Linked DNA regions of Homo sapiens. The protein of the gene in region 4 purifies or fractionates together with the protein of the main gene of each other region. This does not show direct contact. Each region holds a gene or a part of one and is shown on either strand. Other genes may lie near its edges.

Region 1 (3,615 bases), on a different chromosome or scaffold from region 4:
CCCCGGGAGGTTCCCCAATCCCTCTCCCTCTTTGTTCACTGGCCGGGCCTCCGTGTGGAAAGGGCTATTTTTAGCCCTCGCTTTTTTTGGTTAATGGGCTTTTCGCGGCTTCTCTCTTTGAAGGGGCTATTTCAGGAGCAGACATCAGTGTCTGCATTTGGACTCCTTGGCTCGAGGTGCAGGAAAAGGTGATGGGGATGAGCTACTCGAGGGGCATCTGTGTCCCTGGACTGTGCCGGGCCCCTCCCTTGCCCCTGCTGGGTTCTGGGGCCAGGGAGGGACACATGACACCACCCTGCCAGAGCCTGTGGGAGGCGTCGGCAGAGGTGAACCACAGACTTGGATTTGGGGTCCTGGGGTTTGCGCGAGCAGGAATGTCCTCGCTTCTGGGACCTGGAACTGGAGTAGGAATGTCCATGTTTTGACCTCAGGGAGCCACTGAAATGGGCACTTGTGACAGGTTGGAATTGAACAGTGGCTGATTAGTTTCCTCCATTTTGTAGCAAGAGCCATCAGCGTCCACTGTCCCACCCACTCATCTGGGCTTGGGTGATTCGGGCATTTGGGGTGAGCTCTTTTCTCTTAGTTCTTAACTCATTCGTCAGAAGGACCCAGGGGTCAGCCAGGCCCAGCCATCTCCCTGGCCCACTGCACTTCAAGGAAGCTCAGGCTGGCTTGGAGGAGCCAGTGCGAAGTCAGCGGCAAGGCGAGGCTGTGCTGGCCAAGGAAGCGGAGTTCGGCAGCGAGAGAACTCGATGTGCTGGTCAGAGGTCTAGGATTCGAGCTGTGGTTATGTCATGGTCAAGGTTGTGTGGCCTCATCTGGAAGGAGTAGTGGTGCATACACCCCTGTCCACCCCCCGCCCAACAGGGGGTCTAGAAGTGCTTTGCCTCAGGCCCTCCCACCACTGCCTTCACTGCAGCCGGCTCCTTCCTGCAGCTCTCTCGGGAACTGCCCTGTGAGGCCCTTTGACACAGGGAATGTGGACCCTATGGACTGACATGGACAAGGGACCGTGGGCCATGTTGACACAGATAGGAGGTGGACCCCATCGGCTAACCCCGACGGGAACAGGCCCTCAGTGCATGACGGCTCCCTCATGGTGGGTAACAGCAGAAGGGGGGATGCAAATGGGCCTGCGGAGTTAGGGATCTGACCTCTGGGATGACTCTGGGCTGGAGCACCCCCAGGCTTGCTGAGCAGCTGCCCAAGGCCCAGGAGCCAGCGCAGCTGAGACGAGAGCTCTGGACAGGAAACTGGAGACCAGATTCGTGCAGGTGATGTGGCTTTGAGTTACCCGCTGCTCCAGGCCTGGTGTTCTCCTGTGAAGAATTTGCCCGCAGGCTCTCCATGGCCCCTCGGGGGGTAAAGCGTCTCTGGAGGGCCCTGGAGCCCCATCTGGAAAGTTGGTTTTCACTCTCAGCAGCTGAGTGGATCGGGCCTTCTGGGGAAACTGCTTTCCCCAACTTCACATACCTAGAAGTGCTAGAAAACTTAGAACACAGACCATTTAAGCAAAGAAGACCAGCCTTAGAACTAGTGAAAAAGGTACAAAAGGAACTAAAGAAGCAAGATGCAGAACTGCGCTTAAACACAAGGAAGGGTGACCTCTAGCACCATAGCCAGAGACGACCGTCCAGTCCTGTGTTCCCCGTTCCATCTCCTAGTGAGCCCTGGGCCCGCCTGGGTACTGCACGCCTTGTAGTTTGGCACTGCCTTGCCTGGCCAAGCCTTGCAGCACCCAGGTGCGGGGGGCAGGCAAAGGGCTCGCCAGCCCCATCGCTCATGAGCTGATCACAGACCTGAGCCCAAGTTCAGACTGAGCCAGCCTGGTGCTTCCATCCCTGTCCTCTTGGGCGGTGACCACAACCTACAGAGGACGAGCTCTTCAGTCATAGAACGGAATGCAAGCACCATGACAGCACTCCCTGAAATGAGGCAGGGAGGACAATCTGCTCATCCACTGGGATGGAAACGTGACTGTCGTCGCCCTCAGTAGCTCCCGAGGAGCACTGGGACTCCCCTTGTCAGAATGTGTGATTTCTCCGGCTTTCATCTAAGTTAAAACACGGGTCAATGAGGTGGGAGATCCTGGTTCAGGTGCAGGGCCAGGGCCTGCTGGGCCTGTGTCCAGCCTGACCCCAGCCGTGAGCAGGTCTTGGCAGCACCCTGAGGAGGGCTTACCTGAGGCAAGCAAGTTTGGGTTGTTGGCTGGAGGAAATGGTTTAATCTTTGAAGTGCAGGAAGCCCAGGGTTGCTTTTGTGCCACAGGTCTGGGGTCGCATCACTCTTGGGCCTAGAGAGATTTCTGGGGCGGGGAGTGGCCTCTCTACGAGAACTGCCTGCCCTGGGGACATTGCCAGACTGAACGGTGTCTGTATCTTCTGCTGACTCTGACGGACTTTGTGGGGACATCGATTTCCTTGAGTGTGGCCCTTGGGACCCCCAGGCACCTGATTCCTCTTTCTGGGCCTATGTTTCCTCATTGGTGAAATGGGCACAGCTCACCTTGGTGGGTTATTACATGAGTGTCAGAGGCAGCATTGATGACATGTGTTAGTGTGCCGCAGCTGCCATAACAAAGTTTGTTAAGCCACAGATTGGGTGCCTTAAACAATGGAAATTTATTCTCTGGAAGTCAGAAGTCTGTAGTCAAGGTGTGGGCAGGGACGCACTCCGAGTCCTTCCTTGTCTTTCCCAGATACTGACAGCCCTGGGGGTTACTTTTTGTGAGCAGAACTCCCATCTCTGCCTCCAGCTTCACCCCAACTCTGTATCTGTGTCCAGATTTCCCTCTTAAAAGGACACCAAGTCCTGCTGGATTTACAGCCTGCCCTAATGACCTCATTTTAACTGGACTGCATCTGCAAAGACCCTGTTTCTGAATAAGGTCTCATTGGGTCCCAGGGTTGGGACTTCAGCATGTCTTTTGGAGAGGCACAATTCAACTGAAAACATTACACAATCAAACACAGGCAGGTCCCCCACACAGGTAGCTCATGCTTTAAAATTAAGTCCGTGATTTACTTAGAGCGCGGGGCAGCTTATCCGCCTTGGGGTTGAATTGCTTTTCCTGAAGGTTAGTGTTCGTACCTGCTGAGCAGCGAGCCCTTCCTGTGCCAAGAGAGTTGTTAGCACTGGATGTGCATTTGCCGGGTTAGCGCCGCCTGCAGGTGGGCAGCAAGAGGGCAGGGCAGGTGTTGGCAGCTTTACAACTGCTTATTTAAGGATCAGTCTCTGATACAAACTCTTGTTGACTGCGGAAAGAATGCATTCATTTCCTTATTCGAGTAACAGAGTCGCCCCTGGAAGTCATGTCATTTCCTTTTAGTCGCTCAGGCTCTTGTTCTTGATGAAGGTCATAATCATTAACTTTGTTTAAAAGTTAATTATTGGCCAGGCGCAGTGACTTACTCCTGTAATCCCAGCACTTTGGGAGGCCAAAGCGGGGAAACATGAGGTCAGGATACTGAGACCATCCTGGCTAACAAAGGGAAACCCCATCTCTACTAAAAATACAGAAATTAGCCAGGCGTGGTGGCGGGCACCTGTCGTCCCAGCTACTCGGGAGGCTGAGGCAGGAGAATGGCGTGAACCCGGGAGGCGGAGCTTGTA
Region 2 (3,615 bases), on a different chromosome or scaffold from region 4:
CTAACATTATAAAACATATCAGTGAGTAGTAAAAATTAATTTTCAAGTTAGAGAAATCTTTTTTTTTGTTGAAAGCCTGATAACCAAAATTTGTATTTAAGGTTTAGCAATATTTTTTTATCACCAGTCTTCAGAAGTTATTTTACATTCATCCTACCTTCTCCAAAAACCTCCAGAAATAGTATTTTGACCCCAATAATTTGTTTTCACCTGAAAATTCATTTTTAATTTTTCTTCCCCAACAAGAGTAATTTATAAAATATATAATATTCAAATATAAAAGAAATATATAACAAAGAGTAGCCCATAAATTTAAGAACAAAACATTCTCTGAAGCTTGTGAAGTCAGATTTCCTATGTTCAGTATCTGTTGACTTAAGAGTAGCTATCACAGATTAATAATGACTTGATACATATATATAGACTATATACTGAAGCAGAAACAGAAGGATGTTTAGTCATCATCCACTTTCCATCAAAAGATACTTTTTTTGTTTTTCTTTTTTTTTTTGAGATGGAGTCTCACTTTGTGGCCCAAGCTGGAGTGCACTGGCACTACCTCTGCTCACTGCAACCTGTGCCTCCAGGGTTCAAGAGATTCTTGTGCCTCAGCCTCCCGAATAGCTGGGATTACAGGTGTGCATCACCACTCCTGGCGAATTTTTTTGTATTTCTAATAGAGACAGGGTTTCACCATGTTGGCCAGGCTGATCTCGAACTCATGGCCCCAAGTGATCCACCCACCTCAGCCTCCCGAAAGGCTGGGATTACAGTTGTGAGTCACTGCACCCAGCCAAAAGATACTTTTATCTGTACAAAGGGACTTCTTGCATATTATCTAGGGTAGTTACCAACTTTTAAGGAAAAAATTCAAAAAGGAAAAACAACACCAATTAAAATTAACAGTAAATACTTAAGTACCCTACAAATAAATCAATGATATTACTATTAGATAGCAGATGCATCAGTATTGGCATTATTTAATAGCTGGGGTTTAAAAAGAATACTCACCATAAACCACAACATAAACAAAGCTTGAAATTCGTTATAAACAATGTGCTTCAATATAAAGACACTAATAATGATTTCTTCCATATATGAAGATAACACTGCTGACTGACCATCAGTAAGGCTTATGTTTAGAAGTTTCAGGCTAAAAGTATTAAAATGACAACCAAAAATATAACTATATACCAAAAATTACATACATATATGCAGAAGCACATATGCATATTATATATAGCTTATCAGACAGCTATTTATCAGTCTACATTTGGCTGTTTTATGAGAGGTTTCATTATCTTTTTAAATGTATTAGATATTAACTCATCAGAAAAATTACATTAACTCAAATTAATAGCTTAAATATACTAATGTTTTTCAAATATTTTCATGCTTGTAAACTTCTGAGAAAAAAAATCTGAGCAAATAAAAAGCAATGATATTATAAAACTTGTCTACCCTGATCTTACCTGAAAAAGTCCTCTCACATCTTCCAGCCTTCCACAGTTTAACAGTCTTGTCTGCTGATCCAGTCAACATTAAGCCCTGTTCAGGTAAGATCTTTACCGCCCACACTGCAGCTGTATGACCCTGTGAGTAAAATGAGTATCAATTTAAGTTGCCACAGAATCATTCAACTTAATTATTCTTTAGAATATTTACACAGAACTACTGTACCTGCAAGGTCATCATGCACTTGTCATTCAGCCAGACTTTAGCAGTGGTGTCCCATGAACCACTAAGTAATGTCCCAAATTTTCCAGATGATAGACTACAAACTAAGGAAAAAACATCATTGGATAACACATTTTCATACAGAAAAATGCTCAACATTGAAAGTTACTAAAGCATTCCAATTTTAAAAACACTCTTTGAAGTGGCAGTATCTTAGCTAACTAAGGCTCAATTCAGCAGAGACGCATAAGAGTACAGTGGTCAAGAGCAGACTCTGGTGCCAGACTGCCTGGGCGCAAGGCCTAGCTGTGCCACTTACAAGCCACGTAACTGCAGAAATATTACTCAAAATCAGATTCCTTGTCTGTGAAACGAGGGAGCGGAACTTAAGTGAGCTACACAATCCTTCCAGCTTTAACAAATCATAATAGGGAGATAATGTAAATGATTTTGAAACACTGTTTATATAAATATTTAAGGCTGCTTTCATGACAGTGACCATAAAACCTGCAGCCAAGCTCAATGTCCAAAAGTAATGAAGTGGTTAATTAAATGTCTTACTTTCTTGATGTGAAATTATGCAGGCTAAAAATTACAAATATGAAAAATTATGCCAGGCACAGTGGCTCACACCTGTAATCCCTGCACTTTGGGAGGCCAAGGCAGGCGGATTGCTTGAGCTCAGGAGTTAGAGACCGGCCTGGGCAATGTGGAGAGACCTCATCTCTACTAAAAATACAAAAAAATAGCTGGGTGTGGCGGTATGCGCCTGTGTTCCCAGCTACTTGGAAGGCTGAGGTGGGAGGATTGCTTGAGCCCAGGGCACAGAGGTTGCAGTGAGCTGTGATCATATACCACTGCACTTCACGCCTGGGTGACACAGCAAGATTCTGTCTTTAAAAAAAAAGAAAGAAAAGAAAAATTAGCCAGGTGGAGTGGCTCATGCCTGTAATCCTAGCATTTTGAACTGAGCTCAGGAGTTTGAGACCAGCCTGGGGCAATATAGTGAGACTCCAGCTCTAAAACAAAAATTTTAAATTAGTCAGACATGGTGTCACGCGCCTGTCGTCCCAGTAAGAGAATTGCTTGAGCATGGGAGGCCAAGGCTGCAGTGAGCTGTGAGAGCAGCACTGCATTCTGGTATGACCAAGAAAGTGAGACCCTCTCTCAAAAGATAAAAGAAAAAAAAAGAAAAATTATCTTAGGAAAGAAGAGTATCATTGGCGGTCGAAGCACAGCCATAAAGAACCTTGGATTGGGAAACCTTTTTCCTAGACCAGAAGGAAGCAATCACAAAAGTCTCTCTACCCTGAGCTGAGGATCCTTGAGACAGCTACTTATTTGGATTTCAGAATGGCTCTAGATCAAAAACTGTTGTCTTGCACTGCTTCCTCTTCTGAATGAGTGTTTGCTCTGATTATCCTATTCCTTTTCCATAATTGTATATTGGGTATGGTTGACAGCTTACTTATAAGCATCACCTCTCTGATGTTTAGAATACTTAGCATCACTCAGAGGAGACTTTTGGATTGTTTGATGAAGCTGAATCGTTGATGACCAGAAAGCATGCTGTGGTAACTCTCCCTTTTTGGACACATGGGAGAATGGTACTTTCCTCCTCCATTTGAAGTTAGGCATAGCCATGATACTTGCATTAGTCACCAGACAAAACGGTAGCTGACACTTTCAGTCACACACATGTTTTTGGTGTTTTTTTAAAATTGATTTTTTTAATTCTCTACTACTGTGACATTCAAGGAAGGCACATGCTTTTAAAAGCCAGTGCCTTATTATTATTATTATTTTTTTTTTTTTTTTGAGACAGAGTCTCGCTCTGTCGCCCAGGCTGGAGTGCAGCTGTGTGATCTCGGCTCACCGCAAGCTCTGCCTCCCGGGTTCACGCCATTCTCCTGCCTCAGCCTCCCGAGTGGCTGGGAC
Region 3 (3,238 bases), on a different chromosome or scaffold from region 4:
GAGGCATAACCTAACTGTTTACTTCTTCCAGGCAGGAGCTAACATGATTGTGTCTGGCAGTGCTATTATGAGGAGTGAAGACCCCAGATCTGTGATCAATCTATTAAGAAATGTTTGCTCAGAAGCTGCTCAGAAACGTTCTCTTGATCGGTGAAACCATAAGGAGCCCAGTGTTCCTGTTCATGAAATCTCCCTTTTACTGGAAAACAGGAATATTGACTACCAAATCACAATGCAATTGAAGCCGTACTGCTTTTTTGAGCAGTTATTCATTCCAGTGATTAAAACTGATTGTGCAGAATATTCTAAGAGGTCAGAAATTGGTGTGTATAACTACATTTTTAGTGATGCAATTTATTGATTAGTGAGTAAGATACTGTTTTTATTGAGAGATTTGATTTTTATAAAGTAAAAATACGGCTGCATTAGGGTTACAAACAGAAAAGTGTCTTAATGTCTAAGGAGGGCATATTAGCTACACTACAAAAACAAATTTTGTCTGTACTTCTGAAAAGAATTTTGTTGTTTCTCAGCTGTTTTCCAAAAGCAAAGGAAGTCTTTATGGTTTTTTTCTATTTCATGTTATTGTGATTTGTTTATAAGTTTGGGTGGGGTGCATACCATATTCTTGGTTCTTAAAATCTATCACTTTTCACCTTACACTTGATGTGTGAAAACTATAAAAACAATGTGTGAAACCCAGGGGTTCTAAAATACAAGCATAGATTTTATCAGGGTGTTTTGTCAAAGCAGGTTATTCAGTGATTCCTCCCCACCATTCTTAAGAACGTTAAATAATGCTGTTGTGTTAGCTCTGAGTAGAAAGGAAAAAGTAAAACCTCTGTTTGGAGGTAATATTGGGTTGAATTCTGACTGCCCCTTTCTAGCTGGACCTTTAACAAATCACCCAATCTTTTTTGTGTTTCTCTAAAGTCATTTATACATTAAATGTAATTATAGCAACTGTGGGGTTCTGTTGAGAATTAAGAGCTAACACTATATATGTAAAGTTTCCAGTACTAGTCCCAGAATTTAGAATATGCTCAACACAAAGTAAACAGCATTATATAAGTTTATATTTTTGTGAGTTATAAAGTACTTTGATATATTCTCATTAAATCTGTAAATCACCTCTATAAGTAAGTGGTAATAATAAAGCAGATATTTTTGTCCCCATTTAAAAAATGAAGAAATTAATGCTTAATAGGGTGGTACCCTGGAAAGGATCTGGGAAGTGGTAGAATTTCTGGTCTGTACTTTTACAAATGGAGCCCTTGGGAGGTGGGTTAGGTAAAAGAAGCTTTTTACTTAACGTTGTCTTATTTCCAGTCTAATTTTACGCTGTAGCAGAACCAGATGGCTGAGAAAATTCTGGAACTATGGATCTTGACCCCAAGGATATATTATTTTATTCCAAGAAAGATCAGGTAGGCGAAAAGATGACAGGATACAGAGTCAATCCATAAACTAAATATTTATAACTGTTCTGAATTATACAGAGTCTAAAAATATGTGTCAGCTACTTCATTCCTGTAAATACTCTTGCTGTGTTATAAATATGGCAAGAAATAAACATGACCAATATCAATAGACTTCTTGAGGCTACTATAAGTTTTGAGAAATAAGGTTCAAAAAATAAGAATGCTAACACTTAAGCACAGACTAGAGCTTGCTTGGGTTTCTTCCTGCATTACAAGGTAAAAATTTGTTAATGTTTGTTTTTATTCAGCTTGGGAAAGCTTTGTGCCATGAATACGTCGCATTTAATAACAAGCAACACACGGCATATAGAAATAACTTTAATTAAAAAACTTACATAGAAGATTATAATATCAGACGTGACAAAGATTTGAGTTTATTTGCCTGGACAACTTGGGTTTGTCTGGCTTTTGTTTTCTTTTTCTTTAAAAATAAATGTACAGTAAAACTACAAGCAAAAGTTTGTCAGTATTGAATTGAATTTTTTACCCCTTAAAAGGACTAGTATAATTTCCAATCTCTAACAAAAACTTAGTGTCAAATCTCACAGATAAGGCCAAATGGCCAATATTTTCAGTTATGTGGGTAGTACAACTTGAGTAACCTTTTTTACATGACAAAAAGTGAGTTATATAAATTGTCCTCAACTTTCACATAGGAAAAAAATGGTTTAATAGCTTCAAAAGGAATTTTCTTTCATGTATACTCTTCAGTATCCAATATTGAAGCTTTGTTCTTTGAAAAATTTTAATTTCCAATCTAGGATGCAAGCAAGAATATATGTTTATTTGAATAGAGTAAGCTATGGCAAAGAATGACCAAATTAGCTAGAAATAGAAATCAGCCAGAATTAACTAATTTCTTGCTAATCTAGAAATACAATCATCTTTTTTTTTTTTTTCAAATTTTATACTGATAGGGCTTTACTGTTTGTGGCTCATTTTAAAACTGGTGTCTTCTCTTCATGAGACACATTAATTGGTAAAACTCAAATTGAGTTTTCAAAGATGTGATAGTATTAAAGTGCACCAATATTTGACTCAAATTTGCTTGCTTTATTTTGTTAGGAGTAAACAGAAAGTAGCCTGTGTTTAGTCCCAAAGATAGCAGTGATTTTGAATAAAGGAGTTTTGTGTTGCCTGGATATATGAATTTCTGTAAATAACTTCTGTTGGTTAAACATGTTAAAACAACAACAACAACAACAAAAAACTTCTGTCTCTATATTCAGGACGTTCAGATGTCTTTTATTAGTGGAAACCTGTGTTTTATCTATTCTGCAGCTTACATTTCATAGGGTAGTTCATACATGCATTTCCAAGGGGAGTGGGTCATTGCCAGTGTTTTAAAAACTACATAGGGGTGTGTGTGTGTGTGTATGTTTATTTTATACACACATATTTGTATATTCTAATATATTACTAAGGCAATTTTAATGAATTACCATGTATATAAAAAAATAGCTGTCACTTGGCACACAGGTTTGTATGTATGTGTATATATATATGTATGTATGTATGGTGTGGGTACATAGTCTTAAAAATTACCCAGTAATGTGATTTGACATCAAGTTGCAGCAATTAATATCTTGGTGTTTGTAAGTAAGTTGCATGATAAACACAAATGACTACCACTTGTCTGTAGATGAAAATCTGGTTACCCTTATGGTTCCAGAAGGAAAAACAGACTTATCTTGCCTGTTTCATAAACAGCATAAAAGATTAATACATGCAGAACATGCTCTTATTCTGGAGGGGAT
Region 4 (5,530 bases):
GGCTGGGATTGCAGGTGTGCACCACCACACCCTGCTAATTTTTTTTTTTTTTTTTTTTTGAGACAGAGTCTTGCTCTTGTCGCTCAGGCTGGAGTGCAATGGCAGGATCTCGGCTCACTGCAACCTCCGCCTCCTGGATTCAAGCAATTCTTCTCCTTCAGCCTCCCAAGTAGCTGGGATTACAGGTGCCTGCCACCACGCCCAGCTAATTTTTTGTATTTTTAGTAGAGATGGGGTTTCACCATGTTGGCCAGGCTGGTCTCGATCTCCTGACCTCGTGATCTCCCGCCTTGGACTCCCAAAGTGCTGGGATTACAGGAGTGGGCCACCACGCCCAGCCTTTTTTTTGTATTTTTAGTAGAGATGGGGCTATTTTGGCCAGGCTGGTCTGGAACTCTTGGGCTCAAGTGATCTGCCCACCTCGGCCTCCCAAAGTGCTGGGATTATAGATGTGAGCCACCACACTTGGCCTAAACTTGCTTATCCTCTGGTTTATTCACCTAATAATTTGTGCCTGAGAATAGCACTAAAGTTATTTTCAGTGGTCAATAACTCCTGATAATGTGCTGTCAGAGATTAGAGATTAACTCCCTAAACTTTTTTTTTTAATGAAGAGAGTCTTGTGTATTCATTGTGATTACACTTATCAGACAAATCTCAGGTCTGATTGCGAGTTTTGTTAAAATATTTACTGAATTGCATATTCATATAATTAACGTATGAATCATATCTTTGCTCTATTCTTTATGTTTGAAATTTCTCTTTTCTTTCTTTTTTTTTTGATATGGAGTCTCCCTCTGTCACCCAAGCTGGAGTGCAGTGGTGCAATCTTGGCTCACTGCAACCTCCACCTCCTGGGTTCAAGCGATTCTCCTGCCTCAGTCTCCCTCGTAGCTGGGATTACAGGCATGTGCCACCATGCCTGGCTAATTTTTGTATTTTTAGTAAACACAGAGTTTCACCCTGTTGGCCAGGCTGGTCACGAAATCTTGACCTCAAATGATCCACCTGCCTTGGGCTCCCAAAGTGCTGGGATTATAGGCATTAGCCACCACGCCTGCCCTGAAATTCCTTTAGTTTGCTATTTTTAAACTGTAGTTTAACTGGCAATAGGCCTTTTATCTCAGATATTTGTAAAGAATTATTTTCTTGAAGTGTTTCAGAGAAATATTATTACCAAGGCAAAATTGACTTAACACAAAAGTATCTGTCCACATTATATATTTTTTATTTTAAAGATATCTTATTCTTGAAATAGAAAAGGAGATTTTGTAATGGTATTAATCAGGGGCCTCTAGCAACTCAGCAGTGATGGCTTCCTATCTGCATTAAAGTAAGTCAGGTAAATACTTGGAGGTGTGTTGTAACCTATAGGCCTGACTTTTCAGCTTACTCTAACTTGATTTTTATTTTAGGTTTGGCCTTTGCTTCAGGTTTAGCAGCCACTGTAACTATTACCCATCTTTTAAAAGCAGGAGACCAAATTATTTGTATGGATGATGTGTATGGAGGTAGGTGACCCCTCTCATTTATATTCTGTAAACTTGTATTTTACAGATAATAAAGTGAGCCCTGAATTAATATTAACAATGTTGCCAGTATTTTTGATTATTTATTATAGTTTACAGGTGTGACAGGTACCTCTATGCTCTCTCAGACTTGGGAAAAGAGGAGCATAAACACTTAGGGTCCATGTTCTGGAACTGCTTATAAGAGAGATTATTTATTTATTTATTTGTTTATTTTTAGATAGGATCTCACTCTGTCACCCGGGTTGGAGTGGAGTGGTACGATCTCAGCTCACTGCAGTCTCCGCCTCCTGGGTTCAAATGGTTCTCATGCCCTAGCCTCCTGAATAGCTGGGACCCCAGGCGCATGCCACCACACCTGACTAATTTTTGTATTTTTTGTAGAGACGGGGTTTCGTTGTGTTGGTCAGGCTGGTCTGGAACTCCTGAGCTCAAGTGATCCTCCCTCTCCAGCCTCCCAAAGTTTTGGAATTACGGGCGCGAGCCGCCTCACCTGGCCAGAGATTATTTACTAAGAATAGTATTTAAGGTGCTAGAATGAATACGTAGCACTTGATCAACTTGCAGACATATTCTGCTCTAGAGAAGATAAGGTTTAGAGAGACAGTGTTCTCCTGTAACTTAATTTTTACCTGTAATAAAGATGAAATACAACTCAGGTTACTCTCAAGAGTTCAACCCCACACATCCCCTTTTGCTTTTTATTTTTTGTTTGGCACCAGGGAAACTTTCAAAAATTTGTTGAGAGATATGGGCCTCTTTTCCCAAAAAATGTTCTTAAGACTACACTGAGTGATTAGCATTTTAATTTTAGGGGTCTCATGGATTGAACCGCTGAAGCCCATCTATGGCTCTAAATTTAAGAACTTCCCATTAACTCTTCATTTAGCATTAGGTATATCTCCTAATGCTATCCCTCCCCCCTCCCCCCACCCCACAACAGTCCCTGGTGTGTGATGTTCCCCTTCCTGTGTCCATGTGTTCTCATTGTTCAATTCCCACCTATGAGTAAGAACATGTGGTGTTTGGTTTTTTGTCCTTGTGATAGTTTGCTGAGAATGATAGTTTCCAGCTTCATCCCTGTCCCTACAAAGGACATGAACTCATCCTTTTTTATGGCTGCATAGTATTCCATGTGTATATGTGCCACATTTTCTTAATCCAGTCTATCACTGTTGGACATTTGGGTTGGTTCCAAGTCTTTGCTATTGCGAATAGTGCCGCAATAAACATACATGTGCATGTGTCTTTATAGCAGCATGATTTATAATCCTTTGGGTATATACCCAGTAATGGGATGGCTGGGTCAAATGGTATTTCTAGTTCTAGATCCCTGAGGAATCACCACACTGACTTCTACAATGGTTGAACTAGTTTACAGTCCCACCAACAGTGTAAAAGTGTTCCTATTTCTCCACAACCTCTCCAGCACCTGTTGTTTCCTGACTTTTTAATGATCGCCATTCTAACTGGTGTGAGATGGTATCTCACTGTGGTTTTGATTTGCATTTCTCTGATGGCCAGTGATGATAAGCATATACCTAACGCTAAATGATGAGTTAATGGGTGTAGCACACCAACATGGCACATGTATACATATGTAACAAACCTGCATGTTGTGCACATGTACCCTAAAACTTAAAGTATAATAAAAAAAATTTAAGAACTTCCATTCCAAAGAAATTAAATGTTAGCTATTTAAAGTGGTGAATGTGGAGAAGACAGGCTTGCCCTTGCCTTTAAGCCCACTGATTTTTGTATTTAAAACAAAAGCAAGGAATTTTGTGAATATACATATACATATATTCCAGATGCTTCCAAATAATTAAAATGTGATTTCTAGAATATTATCATTTTATCTATTTCCTATCTGAACAAAAAGTTAAATCACTAAGTCCTTTAAAACAGCAGTTCCCAACCTTTTTGGCACCAGGGACCGGCGTGTTTTTTTTTTTTTTTTTGAGGTGGAGTCTTGCTCTGTTGCCAGGCTGGAGTGCAGTGGCACGATCTCGGCTCACTGCAACCTCCGCTTCCCGGGTTCAAGCGATTCTCCTGTCTCAGCCTCCCGAGTAGCTGGGATTACAGGCATGTGCCACCACGCCTGGCTAACTTTGTGTTTTTAGTAGAGCCAGGGTTTCTCCTTGTTGGTCAGGCTGGTCTCAAACTCCCGACCTTAGGTGATCCACCTGCCTCGGCCTCCCAAAGTGCTAGGATTACAGATGTGAGTCACTCGTGCCCGGCCTCAGGGACTGGTTTTGTAGAATACAATTTTTCCAGGGACAGGGGGATGGTTCCAGGATGAAACTGTTCCACCTCAGATCATCAGGCACTATTTAGATTCTCATAAGGAGCATGCAATCTAGATCCCTCGAAAGTTAGATTCTCATAAGGAGTGCACAACCTAGATCCTTCCCATGAGCAATTCACAGTAGGTTTCCTCCTGTGAGAATCTGATGCTGCCGCTGATTTGACAGGAGACTGAGCTCAGGGAGTCATATTGCTTACCCGCTGCTCACCTCCTGCTGTGTAGCTGGATTCCTAACAGGCCACAAACCTGTACCTGTCTGTGGCCTGGGTTGGGGACCCCTGCTTTAAAGGAAGGGACTTACTCTTAGTAATCATTTTATCCCTCAGAAATTTGCACAATGTTTCGTATTTTATCTTAGTTTCTTATATTAGCTTGTTGAGTTGAAATTATAGAAATCTGAAACCTTTAGATACTTTTATAATGCAATATAAAAGTCTCATGGCAAACATAGGTATAAAATCCTGAAAATTGTTGATTTTAAAGAACTTTTTACATTATTTTTCAATTTTATATTACCTAGGGTCAGTCTACATACCATCAAAAGTCTAGTTTCTCATTAATGACAGAATATTCTTTTGTTGTTGTTGTTGTTATTGAGTATCAATATCAATTTTTTCTTTAAGTTTTTATGTGTAAAAATCAAATCTAGGTGTATTTATAAAAAATTATTTTAAGTCAAATGATTTACCTTGTTTCACTGTAAAAATCTGGTAGTTTGATTTATATTGTCTCATTTTATCGATTAAAACTTTCAGAACTACATAACAAAAAGATCAAAAAAGTACAAAGAATAGTAACCAATTCTTTTCCATTACAAAGTATATTGAAATTTATTTTGAACCTTTCATTGACATTGATTCATTTAGTTTAGAGTTGAGAACTAGGTAGAAATTGTTTGAAAAGATATGATGTTTCAGGAAGCATGTCACTTAGTGGAGATTGGATGTTTTGAAAAACATTATTTGCTTCATGCTACTTTTGGATCTCAAGTGTGTTTTATTTGACTCTTGAGCCTTTAGAGAACAAACCTTATTATTCTTTACTATATCAGATAGCCAAACTATTTAACCAAACTAGAATTGCTTTTAGTTGCATTTTCCTTGGTGACTGAGAGTTCCATATATTTTGTAAGTGTTTATACATAGAAGGAATGAATGTTTCTTAATGCAATGTTCTTTTCATTTTATCTGATTCCCTTCTGTCTCAGGTACAAACAGGTACTTCAGGCAAGTGGCATCTGAATTTGGATTAAAGATTTCTTTTGTTGATTGTTCCAAAATCAAATTACTAGAGGCAGCAATTACACCAGAAACCAAGGTAACTCAGCTCATTTTCAGTTTTGCCTGTTTTTCCTTCGATGTTTTGTTTTCATCATTTCTGTTTACTAGAGGATATAATTTAATGTGAATAACAAATTTTATTTTATGCCATTGGAAACATCAACAAAATTAAGATAGACTGTCATCTCCGGGGTGTTATAGCATAATGGTAGTACATGATTTCTGGAGTAGAATTCAAATTGTGATTCTGTTATCTTAGTTAGTATATTATCTTGGGCAAATTATTTAACCAAAGTCTCAGTTTCTTCATTTGCAAAATGGAGATAATTATACCGGTTTTATAGAAACGGGAGTGTGAGAATCAAATGAGATAATGAATATGAAATGCTTAGTATAGTTCCTGGATACATGGT

The links. The genes of interacting proteins can lie anywhere in the genome.
Region 1: the proteins of CTH (region 4) and WDR1 fractionate together in Homo sapiens (co-fractionation; one large-scale study listed by BioGRID). This does not show direct contact.
Region 2: the proteins of CTH (region 4) and PLAA fractionate together in Homo sapiens (co-fractionation; one large-scale study listed by BioGRID). This does not show direct contact.
Region 3: the proteins of CTH (region 4) and RPE fractionate together in Homo sapiens (co-fractionation; one large-scale study listed by BioGRID). This does not show direct contact.

What each region holds. Positions count from the first base shown.
Region 1 is NC_000004.12:10,089,185-10,092,799, reverse strand, and holds part of WDR1 (WD repeat-containing protein 1), read left to right. Parts: intron 1-3,615.
Region 2 is NC_000009.12:26,926,628-26,930,242, forward strand, and holds part of PLAA (phospholipase A-2-activating protein), read right to left. Parts: intron 1,782-3,615; coding exon 1,681-1,781; intron 1,594-1,680; coding exon 1,473-1,593; intron 1-1,472. UniProt on the Homo sapiens protein: Plays a role in protein ubiquitination, sorting and degradation through its association with VCP. Involved in ubiquitin-mediated membrane proteins trafficking to late endosomes in an ESCRT-dependent manner, and hence plays a role in synaptic vesicle recycling.
Region 3 is NC_000002.12:210,019,638-210,022,875, forward strand, and holds the end of RPE (ribulose-phosphate 3-epimerase), read left to right. Parts: intron 1-31; coding exon 32-154; 3' UTR 155-2,623; downstream 2,624-3,238. UniProt on the Homo sapiens protein: Catalyzes the reversible epimerization of D-ribulose 5-phosphate to D-xylulose 5-phosphate.
Region 4 is NC_000001.11:70,416,522-70,422,051, forward strand, and holds part of CTH (cystathionine gamma-lyase), read left to right. Parts: intron 1-1,415; coding exon 1,416-1,511; intron 1,512-5,044; coding exon 5,045-5,154; intron 5,155-5,530. UniProt on the Homo sapiens protein: Catalyzes the last step in the trans-sulfuration pathway from L-methionine to L-cysteine in a pyridoxal-5'-phosphate (PLP)-dependent manner, which consists on cleaving the L,L-cystathionine molecule into L-cysteine, ammonia and 2-oxobutanoate.